Linked DNA regions of Homo sapiens. The protein of the gene in region 2 purifies or fractionates together with the protein of the main gene of each other region. This does not show direct contact. Each region holds a gene or a part of one and is shown on either strand. Other genes may lie near its edges.

Region 1 (4,300 bases), on a different chromosome or scaffold from region 2:
GCTTCCAAGGCACTTATGTAGCCCCATCCCATGCAGAATGAGGAGGAGGCTGGGCCGAGCATGTACCCCCAGAGTGAATTTCAGCTGCCCTTTCCACCTGCAGAGCATGTTCCCGTTTGTACCAGGCCTTCCCTGACATTTTCCTGTGTGTTTTCATGTCCAATTAAAAAATATATATATACTACTTAAATTGTAAGATGGCCAAGGGCAGGTATCATTTTCCCCATTTTACAGATGAGGAAACTGAGGCTGGAGGAAGTGAAGCTTCCCCAAGGCCCCCCAGCCTGAGCTCTTGATCCTGGCACGGGGTAATGCCCATCACTCTAAAATACAATGTGTATTTGGCGAGGACCTCGCGGGGCTCCTGTCCTGAGTGCCAGGGAACAAGTCCCACGTGGTCTCTGCCTGCACAGAACTCACAGTTGTAGCTCCAGTCCCTCCCGCTCAGCCTCAATTTCTTCATCTGTTGATGGGGTAAGAGCGCTTGACCTTCTTACCAAATGGGGCTGCTGAGAACTCAGACTGCAGATGGGAAGCAATACGTGAATGTGTGCAAGGTGTTTTTTTTTTTTTTTTTTTTGGTGGGGGGGTGGGGGACGGAATCTTGCTCTCTCACCCAGGCTGGAGTGCAGTGGTGCAATCTCGGCTCACTGCAACCTCCGCCTCCCAGGTTCAAGCAATTCTCCTGCCTCAGCCTCCTGAGTAGCTGGGACTACAGGCGCATGCCGCCATACCCGGATAATTTCTTTTGTATTTTAGTAGAGATGGGGTTTCACCGCGTTGCCCAGGCTGGTGTCGAACTCCTGAGCTCAGGCAGTCCACCCACCTCAGCCTCCCAAAGTGCTAGGATTACAGGTGTGAGCCACTGTGCCCAGCCGTCTGCAAGGTTTTTAAAGCAAAGATGAGACAGCAGTTCCTGGATGTCAGCAGGTGAACAAGGACCCCAGGCACAGGATGCCCACAGGAGGGACCTGAGCAGTCAGGCCCAAGAGGCCCCAGTCCCCACAGTGGCAAATGTCCAAGCCACGGCCTGGGGGAGCTGGGGCCTCCGAAGGTGGGAGGGAATTTCGAGAGTTTCAGGCAACACGCAGCCCCTCCACCACTGCATCAGACGAGAGGCCCATTTTCCAACACGCCCAAGAAAAAATATACATAAAGGTTGATGTGTTTTCAAATGGGTTTTTGCTTTGCTCTTCTCTTTTCTCCCTGTGAGTATTAACCTTGGGGACCCTGGGGACGGCTCGGCTTGCCAGAGCACCTGCTGGGGTCACAGGCAGTCATTAGCTTTGCGGTCAGTGCAGAATAAACCCCAATCCCGAGCCGGCGAGAGCGTGCGTGCCGCTCCTGGGAAGCCCTCGGAACGCCGCCTTGCTCCTCCAAAGTCACACTTTTTCCTGCCTGACTTGTTCCTCTCCAGCTATTCTACCTCCAGCTGTGGGGGCGTCGAAGAAAAAGATGAGATCAAGTTGAGGGGAAAAATTGTCTGATTTCTCCAGCCCTTTGTTTCCCAGGCCTCTGGCAAGCGAGGCTGGTGCTAGGCTGAGGGCTGGGGACCGGGGGATCTGCCGGACCCCACCAGCTGGTGGGGAAATGGACAGAGGAGAGGGGTGCAGATCCCCGCGGGAGGTGGGCTGTAGGGTGTCCAGGGACTGGTATGTCATCTGCCCACCACTTTCTGTCTTTTTTCAGAACCAAGCGCCTCCAGGTCTCTACACGAAGACCCAGGACCCAGCCAAAGCCCCCAACACCCCTGACATTCTCGAGATCGAGTTCAAAAAAGGTATGTGCCCACCTGTTGGGACTCGAAGGGGGTTGACTTTTGGGGCCCTGGCTCCTTTCCCCTCCCTGCCTGGGAACCTAGGCCCTCTTTACCCCCGCCCTGCATTCCTGGAAGCTAGAGTTCAGGCAGGGGCTTCAAGGTAACGCACAGCCCACCTCCCTGGACAGTACAACCCATGGACCATGGATGCCTCTAGGCTTGGGAGGAACATGCCCTCGGCTACCCATCACTCGGGTTCATGGGCACCAGGTCTGGAATGAGAGCGCTCTAGTCCCTGAACAGCCACTCAACTTTCCTGGGCCTCAGTTTCCTCAGCTGTATCTGAGGATGAAAGAGTGCCTGCTGTTTTCCTGGGGTAGAATGAGGCCTGCAAGGGAGCGTCCAGCCCTGGGCCCTGACCCCGGAAGGTGCTCAGTAAACGGTGAGTGTTGGCGAGCTGGCCTCATGGACCCCTGGGACCCCACATGGAAAGCCTTCGCCAGTCTTCATTGAGCCGCTCTGGGCCTCACCCTGCTGACCCCACGTTCAAAGCTGCGGCCACTCTTGCTCCCCTCGGCAGTGGAGGCTGTCCTGATCGCTCCCTCCTTCTCACTGCTGTCAACAAGAAGCGTTTGCTGACCTGGCCTGAGTGCCTGGGTGCCTGAGCTTGGGAGAGGGCATCTCTTGGCCTGGAGGAAGGATGGAGAAGCGAGGCATGCCCGCCTGGGCTCAGAGGGAGGGCTCAGAGGGCGGGCTCAGAGGGCCTGAAGGGGTACCTTTTCAGGAGGCTGGAGTGATCAGGGAGGCTTCCTGGAGGAGGTGGTGCTGGGCACAGGGGCACCCAAGGACCAGGCGGGGGGCTGGCCCATTCGTCCACAAAGTGGCTGCCCACACTGGAGCTGGGATGAGAGGGAGAGAGGCTCGTGGAGAGGCCTGGCCCGGCTCTGGCGCTCGGCTCTTACCCCGGCTACCACAGAAAGGAGGATAGGGTGGGGAAGCCTCAGGCCGGTGGGGAGGCAGAGCTGCAGATCCCCCTCTCCCCCTTGCTGGTGTGACCTTGACAGCCAGCTTCACCATGCTGGGCCTTGGGTGCACTCATCAAAAAACGGACCACAGGCATGATGCTCACAGGTGCCCGGCATGGTATGTGGAATGGGGTGTCGGAGGCTAAGTGCTTTAATAATCTGCCTCTTCTGGGCCTTTCCCAAGAGCTTGGCCAAGCCAGCGACTGTCTTCCTTGCTCCCCTTCATCTGTCCCAACCTACTGGGGGGCCAAAGAGGACCCCAAAGGCAGCCGGGCCCCCAGGCCTGTTTGCAGGCACAGAGCCTCCCTTTAGGATCATCTCTGAGAAGATGGTGGGAGTGGCCCCAGCAGCACCTCCTGGCTCCCTGCACAGGGCTCCCAGGAGCCTGGAGAGCCGTGAGGGTGGGAGGCGGGTGGCAGGCTGCGGAGGGTCCTGGGCACCAGGCTCTGGCAGCCCTGCCCGAGGACCAGGGCAGCTCCGCAGGCTGAGCTGGAGAAGAAACGTGACCTATTGTCATGATTTGGGGACTGTCTGGAAGAAGAAAAAAAGACCGGAGGAACCCTCCCCTGGCTAGTGCCCATTCACTCTCTAGTTAATTTATTTGAAGTTTTAATCTAATTATTAACTATTTTAAAGGCTAAGAGGCTTTCTCCAGCAGCAGCACCAACAATGTCACCTCTTCTCCCGGGCAGGCCCCATCTAAGGCCCCAGCGAAGGCCGATAATAGGACCGGGGAGGGAGAGAAAGGGAGAGAGGAGAGGCGGGGGGTGGTGAGAGGGGCTTAAGGTTCATTATTGGGCAGACTTACATTTAATAGCAATTTACAACCAAGTTATAAAACCCCTGGAAATGGGGGTTAAGAATGGCGAGGCTGACAGCGCCTTGAGTGAAGCCCCTCCAAGCGGCGCCTGGCTAATAAAGCCTCGAAAGCCGCTATTGAGGCCTGATTGGCACCCGATGGCTCGCTCCATGGTAATGAGCCGGGCAGATGGGTGGGGGATTAGCCGCCAACTTTGAACAGCTTTTCTTTGTCACTGTTTCAGCTCTCTTGTTAGCCCCAATACATTTATTGCTCATTTCACACCGCTCGAGAAAGTGCCCCTTGCTATTCAAAGTCAACCCCGAACCCACCCACTGCCCCCACCCAACCCCTTCCCTCCTGCCACCCCGGACCCAGCTCCTCGGATTCAGGGACGCTGCCGACACCTCGCCTGCTGGAGCGGGCACCGTGTCACCCCCATCAATCAGATGGCTGCGTGTGGGTCTGGGGTACAGGGTCGGGGCGCGGGGTCCGCCTGACAGACGTGGCAGGGGGCTGTGTGTGTGTGTGTGTGTGTGTGAGCGAGTATGTGTGTGCTTGAGCCCAGCCACACCTCGGCCAGGCGGCCCCCGGGTGACTGGTGGGACAGAAGGTGCTCCCGGCGTAAGACAATGGTGGAGCGTGAAATTCAATTAGTTCAGGGCCTGGTTCCAATTTCACAGCCCCTAAATGCAAAAGGGGCAAAGAGAATGGGAG
Region 2 (5,014 bases):
ATTTTAGTGTTTCCTGCCCTAGAAAGAGAAACATTTCTTCCTAGAACATATCAGAGGAAAGTACTTCCTATTTGTTCTTCCAAGCTTTACGCTTACAGCCCGGCTTTTCTTTAGCAAAGGAGAATAAAATATAAAGCAGAAAACGTCATTGTATCTCTTTTCTTCTAATCAGAAACAAGGTTCCATCCCTTCCTCTTTTTACTTCATCAGTTGCCTGTTGTACACACTTTGCATCCTCTGCATTCTTTTTGTAGCCTACTGAAGGGGTCTAGAGGTTTTCTCAACTAAAGCTGTTCTAGAATTTTAAAAATTAATAACATAATTGAGTTTTTCAGCATAAATTTAAAATCATATTTTACACAGATTATAAATTTATTTCAATCATGTTTTATGAATCAAGTTGAACATTCTTACTAAACTGAATTTCCAAGTGTATTTATTTATTTAGAGACAGGGTATTACTCTGTCACCCAGGCTGGAGTGCAATGGCATGATCATAGCTCACTGTAACCTCCCACTCCTGGGCTTGAGTGAGCCTCCTGCCTCAGCCTCCCGAGTAGCTAGGGCTACAGGTGTGCACAATCATACCTGGCTAGTTTTTTGTTTTTTCTTAGAGATGGGACCTTGCTATGTTGCCCAGGCTGTCCTTGAACTCCCAGTGTCAAGCAGTCCTCCCATCTTGGCCTCCCAAAGCTCTGGGATTATAGGCATGAACCACTGTGCCCAGCCCATCCACATGTATTTTAAATGATTTTTTTTTATTTCACTGAAAGAGGTTATGAAACAGGCTCTCACTTAGGACACCTAAGAACCAAAGATAATGTGTGGACTTTGATTGGGCCTGGTGTGAAAAAACAGCTGGAAAAGGCATTACTGGGATAACGGAACACTTAAATAGGATCTCAGTATTAAATAATATTAAATAATTATTGACAATTGTTAATTGTGATAATAATACCGTTAAACCTAGGTGATGAGTTTGAATGATGGATTTGAAGCCCAGCTCTTGCTTTCCAGCTTTGTGAGCTTGGGCAAATTGTTTAGCTTTTGTGCTTTCGTAGCTGTTTAATGACATAGTATAGCGCTTGACAAAAGTAAGTGTTCAATTTATTTTTTATTGTAACTAATATTGCATGTTTAATCCCCAGGATTTCTGGTACTCTCTTTTTGGTACTTTCTTCCATCTCTTGTTACTTACCTTGATTAGGATCTTGAATCAAGAACTTCCTGGGTCTCTATTCCAATACCTTTTTCTTAAGAAACTATTCCCTCACCTTTCTTATTGACAGAATAGAAAAAGAGAGCTCTTCTTTGCTTTTCCTCTTCTCTCATTCTCCTTCCTGGATTTCTGGTTAAGAAGAATAAATTAGAATAAGCAAAACAGTTTTGAGGTAGGACATATATTTTAATGATTAACTCAATCAAGGTCTGTGCAGCTTTATTCTAGCGACTTATTCCTCTTCTCAAGTTTGTATATTACAGTAAAGGTGAATGGATACACACACACACACACACACACACATGTATTTGTATATGTGTGCAGAGGATGTTTTCTTAAGAAGAACCTAGATCATAGAGTGCTTTAAAATCAGTTAATCACTTAGTATGCTTATGAATCTGAAGTTAGTGGGATGTTTGCATTGAATATTCTCAAGTTGATCAGGTATTCTAAATTAATTTTAACTTCTGAGTCTCCAGGAAAGCTTTCAGAATTTATACTTACTACCCAGGTGAGAAGTTGCAGTAAAATAAAAGTGAATCTTTCCCAAACTTGTGGAATATTAGAGTTGGAACAGGCCTTAGAAATTCCAGTGCTTCATTTGCCACATGAGAAGGCTGATATCTGAACCAAACAGATAACTTCAGAACCTCTGGATACCAAACTTGTGAAGCTAAAACAGAAATGTCAACTTGGGATTTAAAGGAAAATAGTAATGCATAGAAATGGTTTTGAAAAGAAGGTTTTAGATATTTTTGTGCTCCATGTTTTCCTGCATATGTCTCCCTTTTCTCTGCCAAACTGCTTTTCACACCCGGTCCTTGGACTCTTTGAGCACTTCCCTGCCATATAATTGACTTTCAGAAATTGAATGAAGCTGGAAATGTTGAAGCAGGACTGGCCATAAGAATCTCTTAATATCTGGATAGTCCAGTCACAAAGATCTTTACTGTCATTCAGCTGACTTTTGGCTCGCTAAATATAGCTGAATATCACAAATTCTAATTGTCAAAACCCTCCCTCATTTTAATTTGAACTAGAAAACTAGACAAAATTTGGTAAGAATAAATTTCAGCAAACTGTAGAATTATGATCTAAAATATCTCAAAATTTTATCCCATTTTACTTTGAATAATGTTAGAAATATACTATGCTAGGCTGTCAGTTGGATCCTTTTAGTACTACATAAGTAAGTTATAAATTACTTAAATTGCTCTCAGTACTTTCAGAGAAAGCTAACATTACCATAATTTTGGAAAAATTAGACTGACCTAAAAGCAGCTCCTCTGCTCCTTTTCAAATCTCCTCCTGGTTCAGCCTGCCTGCCTCCACTTCTGCCTCCACCATGTCCATCAGGGTGACCCAGCAGCCCTACAAGGTGTTCAACTCTGGCCCCTGGGCCTTCAGCAGCTCCTCCTACATGAGCAGGCCCAGTGCCCACATCAGCTCCTTGATTGTCTCCCGAGTGGGCAGCAGCAGCACCAGCTTCCAGGGTGGCCTGGGTGCCGGCATGGGTCTGCCACTGCACTCCAGCCTGGCTAACAGAGCGAGACTGTCTCAAAAAAAAAAAAAAAGAATAAATAATAATAATAGTAATTATAACTGATATGCCAGGAAAGGAGGGAAAATGGAATCATATAAAATGCTCATTTAAAACCATAAAAGGCAGAAAAAGAATGGAAGGCAAAAAAAGAACAAAGAACAAGGACAACAAATAGAAAACAGTAACAAATATGGTAAATAGTAATACAACTATATCAATAATCACTTTGAATATCAGTAGACTAAAAGTACCAATTAAAAGACATATTGTACAAGTGGATCAAAAAATAAGACTCAATATACATTGTCTACAAGAAACCCACTTTAAGTGTAAATACACATATAGATTAAAAGTAAATAGGTAGAGATAGGTGTACCATGTTAACATTAATCAAGAAAAGGCGTTGGTAGCTATAGATGGAGCATACTTCAGAGCAAGGAAAATTACCAGGGATAAAGAGAGACATTACATATGATAATGGGATCAATGCTCCAAAAAGACAAATGCAATGGTTAATTTTAGGTGTCAACTTTACTGGGTTAACAGATACCCAGATAGATGGTAAAACATTATTTCTGGGCATGTTTATGCAGGTATTTCTGGAAGAGATTGGCATTTGAATCAGTAGACTGAGTAAAGAAGATGTGCCCTCACCCGTGTAAGTGGGCATCATTAAATCTGTTGAGGGCCCCAGTAGAACAGAAAGGTAGAGAAGAGACAATTTGCTCTCTCTTCTGGAGCTTGGACTTCCATTTTCTTCTGCCATCAGACATCAGAACACTAGGTTCTTGGGCTTTTGGACTCTAGGATTTACACCAGTGGTCCTTCAGGTTCTCAGGGCCTTTAGCCTCGGACTGAGTTACACCATTGGCTCCCCTAGTTCTCAGGCCTTTGGACTCAGACTGAGTTACAGCACTGGCTTTACTGATTCTCCAGCTTGTGAAACTTATTACTTCTATAACAGCATAAGCCAATTTCCATTAAAAATTATATATATATACACACACACACACACACACACACGTATGTGTATATGTATCTATAGCTATACATCTTCTATTAGTTCTGTCTCTCTGGAGAGCCTTAATACAGGTAACAATCTTTAATGTGTATGCACCATTACAGCATTAAAACACATGAGGCAAAAACTGATAGAATTGCAAGAAAAAATAGATGAATCCACTAATATAATTGGAGATTTCACCCCTCCATCATAAATAGACCCGGCAGGTAGAAAATCAGTACGGACATAATTTAACTCAACAAAACAATGAATCAACTGGATATGATGAACATCAGTAGACTGCTACATGTAACAGCAGCAGAATACACATTCTTCTCAAGCTCACATGGAACACTCACCAAGATAAATTATATTCTGGCGAATAGAACACACCTTAACCAATTTAAAAGACTAGAAATCATATGGTGTGTGCTTTGGAATTCAACTAGAAGTCACTAACGAAAGCTGGAAAATCCCCGATACTTGGAGATTAAACAGCACACTTCTAAATAACTCTGGGTCAAAGAAGAAATCTCAAGATAAATTTTTTAATATTTTGAACTAAATAAAAGTGCAAACACAACTTATCAGAATTTGTGGGATACAGTTAAAGCAGTGATTAGAGAGAATTTTTATAGCATTGGATGCATGTATTAGAAAACGAGAAGGTTCTAAAATCAATCATCTAAGCCTCCACCTTACAAAACTAAAAAAAAAAAAAAAAAGCAAATTAGAATGAAAATAAGCAGAAGAAGGGAAATACAGTAGCTCTCCACCCCCCTTATCCACAGTTTGCTTTCTGCAGTTTCGGTTACTTGTGGCCAACTAAGGTCTGAAAATATTAAGTGGAAAGTTTCAGGAACAACCAATTCATAAATTGTAAATTTTGTGTCATTCTGAGTAGCATGATGAAATCTCATGCCATCCTACTTTGTCCTTGTTGAAACATGAACCATCCCTTCATCCACCATCTGTATGCTGTAGATGCTACCTACTTGTTAGTCACTTAGTCATCCCACCTAATCACTTAGCCATTGTTGTGGTATTGCAGTGCTTCTGTTCAAGTAACCCACATTTTATTTAATGATGGCCCCAAAGTACAAGACTAGTGATGCTGGTACTTTGAATATGCCAAAGAGAAGCCATAAAGTACTTTTTTTAAGTGAATAGGTGAAAGTTAAAATCCCAGCACGTTATTCTGTGGATATCAACACACAGATTTTGGAGTTTAAATGGAGACGGCGGTAAA
Region 3 (4,300 bases), on a different chromosome or scaffold from region 2:
GGGTGTATGCACTGAGAATTTTCATAGGTACTGCCAACCTGCTTTTCAAAGAAGCTGGAGTCATTTAATCCAGTCCCACTGAAGGGTGGAAAGTGCCCCTTGTCAACCCTGGTCAGTGCTGGATCTTAGTAGCTGTCTTCATTCTTGCTGAGCTGATAGGCAAAAAGGGCTAACTTGTTTACATTTGTATTTCCCTAATCACTGGTAAGATGGAACACATTTTTGTTTGTTAAATACATCAGGTTCAGCCGGGTGCGGTGGCTCACACCTGTAATCCCAGCACTTTGGGAGGCCGAGGCGGGTGGATCATGAGGTCAGGAGTTCGAGACCAGCCTGACCAACATGGTGAAACCCCGTCTCTACTAAAAATACAAAAATTAGCTGGGCGTGGTGGTGCATACCTATAATCCTAGCGACTGGGGAGGCTGAGGCAGGAGAGTTGCTTGAATCCGGGAGAGGGAGGTTGCAGTGAGCTGAGATGGCACCACTGCACTCCAGCCTGAACGACAGAGCGAGACTCCATCTCAAAAAACAACAAAAAAAATCAGGTTCATTACAGATGCTTTGGGTGGGGTTGACATCTCTGATTATCTTGTGGAGAATTCCCTCTGACATGGCTGGGCTGCCTTTAGAAAGTGATTCCGTTGGCCAGGCGCGGTGGCTCACGCCTGTAATCCTAGCACTTTGGGAGGCCGAGGCGCGTGGATCATGAGGTCAGGAGATTGAGACCATCCTGGCCAATATGGTGAAACTCTGTCTCTACTAAAAATAAAAAAATGAGTTGGGTGTGGCGGCATGTGCCTGTAATCCCGGCTACTCAGGAGGCTGAGGCAGGAGAATCGCTTGAACCAGGGAGTTGGTTGCAGTGAGCCGAGATCTTGTCACAGCACTCCAGCCTGGCGACAGAGTGAGACTCCGTCTCAAAAAAAAAAAAAAAAAAAGAAAAAGAAAGTGATTCCATAGCTGATGTCTCTTGGTGGAGAAGTGGGTTTTGCCCCCTTTGTTTCCTTGACACTGTCCCTGCAATCTCACTAGTGGTGTGGTGTTAGAAAGAGATGGCTGCTCTGTGTGACCTTAGCCAGTTCATTTGTAAAATAGAAGCCTCAGTTCATGTGTAAAGTAGAAATCATAATGGTCCTTTCCCCATGGGGTTGTTATAGGATGACCTGAGATAGTGCAGGTTGCAGTGCCTGGGACTAAGTAATTGCTCAATAAATACCAGCTATTTGTTGCGACTGGCTGTTAACCTTCTGTTTAAGAATGATAGCTGATTAACAGCCTCTAATTATGCTAAAAAATGTTCCTCTTCCTCCTTAATGGCCTCCTCCCTCCCCATCCCAATCTGTGTTCAGTGCTTGGAGGGCTTGTTGTTGCAATCTCTTCCCACCTTTCCATTTCTACGACCAGCATCTCAGTTTACTGTTGGTTCTACCTGGAAGCATTACGGCAACCCCTACCCACCCTGAACCGCTCATGTGTGTGTCTGGTAGGGTCTTTTCTCTGTTTAAAAACCTCAGTGGCCCCTCTCACCTGCACAGAGTTTACAGTAAGATTTCTTCACTTGGACACTGTTGACCCTTTGGGCCCTGTGATTTTTTTTTTTTTTTTTTTTTTTTGAGACGGAGTCTCGCTCTGTCGCCCAGGCTGGAGTGCGGTGGTGTGATCTTGGCTCACTGCAAGCTCCGCCTCCCGGGTTCACGCCATTCTCCTGCCTCCCAAGTAGCTGGGACCACAGGTGCCCGCCACCACGCCTGGCTAATTTTTTGTATTTTTAGTAGAGACGGGGTTTTACCATGTGAGCCAGGATGGTCTTGATCTCCTGACCTCGTGATCTGCCCACCTCGGCCTCCCAGAGTGCTGGGATTACAGGCGTGAGCCAGCGCGCCGGGTCTGGGCCCTGTGATTTTTGTTGTGGGGCTATCCTGCGTGTCGAAGGATGTTGAGCAGCATCCCTGGCCTCCACCCACTAAATGCCAGCAACACTTCCCTCCCCCTGCTGTGACAACCAAAAATGCCTCCAGACATTGCTGAGTGTCCTTTGGAGGGACAGTCATCCCGGCTGAGAACCACTGCGCTCGTAGTCTGTTTTCAGTTCGCCTTTCTGGCTTCCTCCTACCCCCTGGTCATTCTTTTGTTCTTTGGCTTGCTTGGTTCGTTAGCCACCAGCTGTTTCTGGGGAGCCTAACTGTGCTAGGCAGTGGGCTGCACTCCTTGGCGTTCCCCTGGCTGGAAGACCCCGGGTGCTGGCCGCTTTTCTGAATGTGTTCTGGTTGCGTATCATCCTCAGCTATTTGCTTTTGAGTGGGATGTCGTTCCCCTACCTAATCTCAACCTTTGAAGTCTTACCTGTTCTTTCAAGCTAGGCCCAGATGTGACGTCCTCCCTGAAGCCTGCCTTGTTCCCCACCCCACCTTGGAATTTGACCTTTCCTACGCCCTTGCCACATTTCACATAATTGTGTGTGTGTGTGGTGTCTCCTGCACTGTTATAGCATAAGCCCCAAATGGAGTGAGAAGCTGTGCTCTTCCTAGTGTCAGGCTTTGGAAAGCTGGACTGGGCAATTACACCGGCTAGAAATTCTCCTCAAATCCATCTTTCAGGCCGGGCACGGTGGCTTGTGCCTGTAATCCCAGCACTTTGGGAGGCTGAGGCAGGCGGATCACTTGAGGTCAGGAGTTTGAGACCAGCCTGGGCAACATGGTGAAACCCCGTCTGTACTAAAAACACAAAAATTAGCCGGGCGTGGTGGCGCATGCCTGTAGTCCCAGCTACTCAGGAGGCTGAGGTGGGAGGATTATCAGACCCTGGGGGAAGGTCAAGGGTGCAATCCCACTTCACTCCAGCCTGGGCGACAGAATGAGACGCTGTCCCCCCCCCACCAAAAAAAATCCATTTTTCCCACAGATGCTGCAAGAGAGCTATTTAAAATGCAGCAGCTCATGCCACTGATTAAAACCCTTTGGTGCCTCCCCAGCACACACGAGAGAAAGTCCACGTTCTTGGAAGTGGCACACAGGTCCAAGATCTGGCCTCGCCACTTTCTGCCTGCCTTGGGCGGCAGGCTTGACCTCATGTGACCGCCCCCACTCACGGCTGTTTTTGCTACTGTCTCCCCTGCCTGGAGCAGTGGCTTTCAGACTGCAGCTCATGACCTATTTGTGTGTTTGGAAGTGAATTTTGAGGGCCCTAAATTTTTTTTGACTTGAATAGAAAAGAAAAACCCAGAGTGCCCGTAGGTCTACCATTCTCAGACATAGCTGGTGTGTCCCCATCTAGCCACTCTAAAGGAGCCTGTCCCACTCCCGCCAGTCCCATCCCGTGTTATTTCCTATGTGTCACTTTTCACTCTCGGAAATTGTCCTCTTTGTTTGTTTGCTTGCATCCTGTCTCCCTCCTTCACTTGTGTGTGGAGGGGCCTTGTGAACAAGGATGTTCAGGGCTGTGTCCCTGGGACCTAGAATGTACCAGGCACATGTAATGAGTCGGGAGGGTGGGGGAGCCTGGGGGTGTGTTGTGTGCAGCGTGGGGCTCAGGGCCTGGGAAGATACCGCGCTGGGCCTCGTTAACTGCCCTGTGTGTGCAGGCAGCTACATCACCACGATCGGAGTGGATTTCAAGATCCGGACCGTGGAGATCAACGGGGAGAAGGTGAAGCTGCAGATCTGGGACACAGCGGGGCAGGAGCGCTTCCGCACCATCACCTCCACGTGAGTCCACACGCCCACTCCCACCCAACCCGCGCCACTGACCTGTGGACACAGTTGAGCGACCGGTGCCTGGTCATGGTGGAAATGTCACTGGTGGGTCCCTGAGGCTGTCGGGAAGTGAGCCTGTTGTTGGCTGTAGTAGGTGGCGTTTGGCTGCACCCTTCCTGGTCCTGAAGATGTGAGGGGGGTGCTGTGGGGGAGTCGCTGAGCACCCTGGCTGGAGTCTGGCCGGACAGTGGCCATGTTCTATCTCCTTGGAGAGTCAGCCGACCCTCCGGCCCACTGTGCCGTCACCTTACAGAGAGAGCAGAATAGCATTTGCCTCGCTAGGGGGTTGCGAAGTGCCTTGCCCACCCAGGACTTAGTCGCTGACAATTCCTCTTGGTAGGTGTCAGTTATGGCAGCTGGAGTTGGCCTGTGCAGGCTCCCGTCACCTGCACTGATGCCTTGGAAGTGACGCTGTCTAGAGACGAACACGGTGCATGTCAGCAGGCCCTTCCCTACCCTTAAAGCTGTTCCTGGGAAATCCGGCCGCCCACCGGTTGCCCACCTTTGTGGCTGAGCTGCAGGCCGGGGGGAAGCTGGGCTCCTGC

The links.
Region 1: the proteins of MPC1 (region 2) and ASS1 purify together in Homo sapiens (affinity purification with mass spectrometry; one large-scale study listed by BioGRID and IntAct). This does not show direct contact.
Region 3: the proteins of MPC1 (region 2) and RAB35 purify together in Homo sapiens (affinity purification with mass spectrometry; one large-scale study listed by BioGRID and IntAct). This does not show direct contact.

Annotation. Positions count from the first base shown.
Region 1 is NC_000009.12:130,475,182-130,479,481, forward strand, and holds part of ASS1 (argininosuccinate synthase), read left to right. Parts: intron 1-1,689; coding exon 1,690-1,780; intron 1,781-4,300. UniProt on the Homo sapiens protein: One of the enzymes of the urea cycle, the metabolic pathway transforming neurotoxic amonia produced by protein catabolism into inocuous urea in the liver of ureotelic animals.
Region 2 is NC_000006.12:166,374,927-166,379,940, reverse strand, and holds part of MPC1 (mitochondrial pyruvate carrier 1), read left to right. Parts: intron 1-5,014. UniProt on the Homo sapiens protein: Mediates the uptake of pyruvate into mitochondria.
Region 3 is NC_000012.12:120,103,233-120,107,532, reverse strand, and holds part of RAB35 (ras-related protein Rab-35), read left to right. Parts: intron 1-3,583; coding exon 3,584-3,707; intron 3,708-4,300. UniProt on the Homo sapiens protein: The small GTPases Rab are key regulators of intracellular membrane trafficking, from the formation of transport vesicles to their fusion with membranes.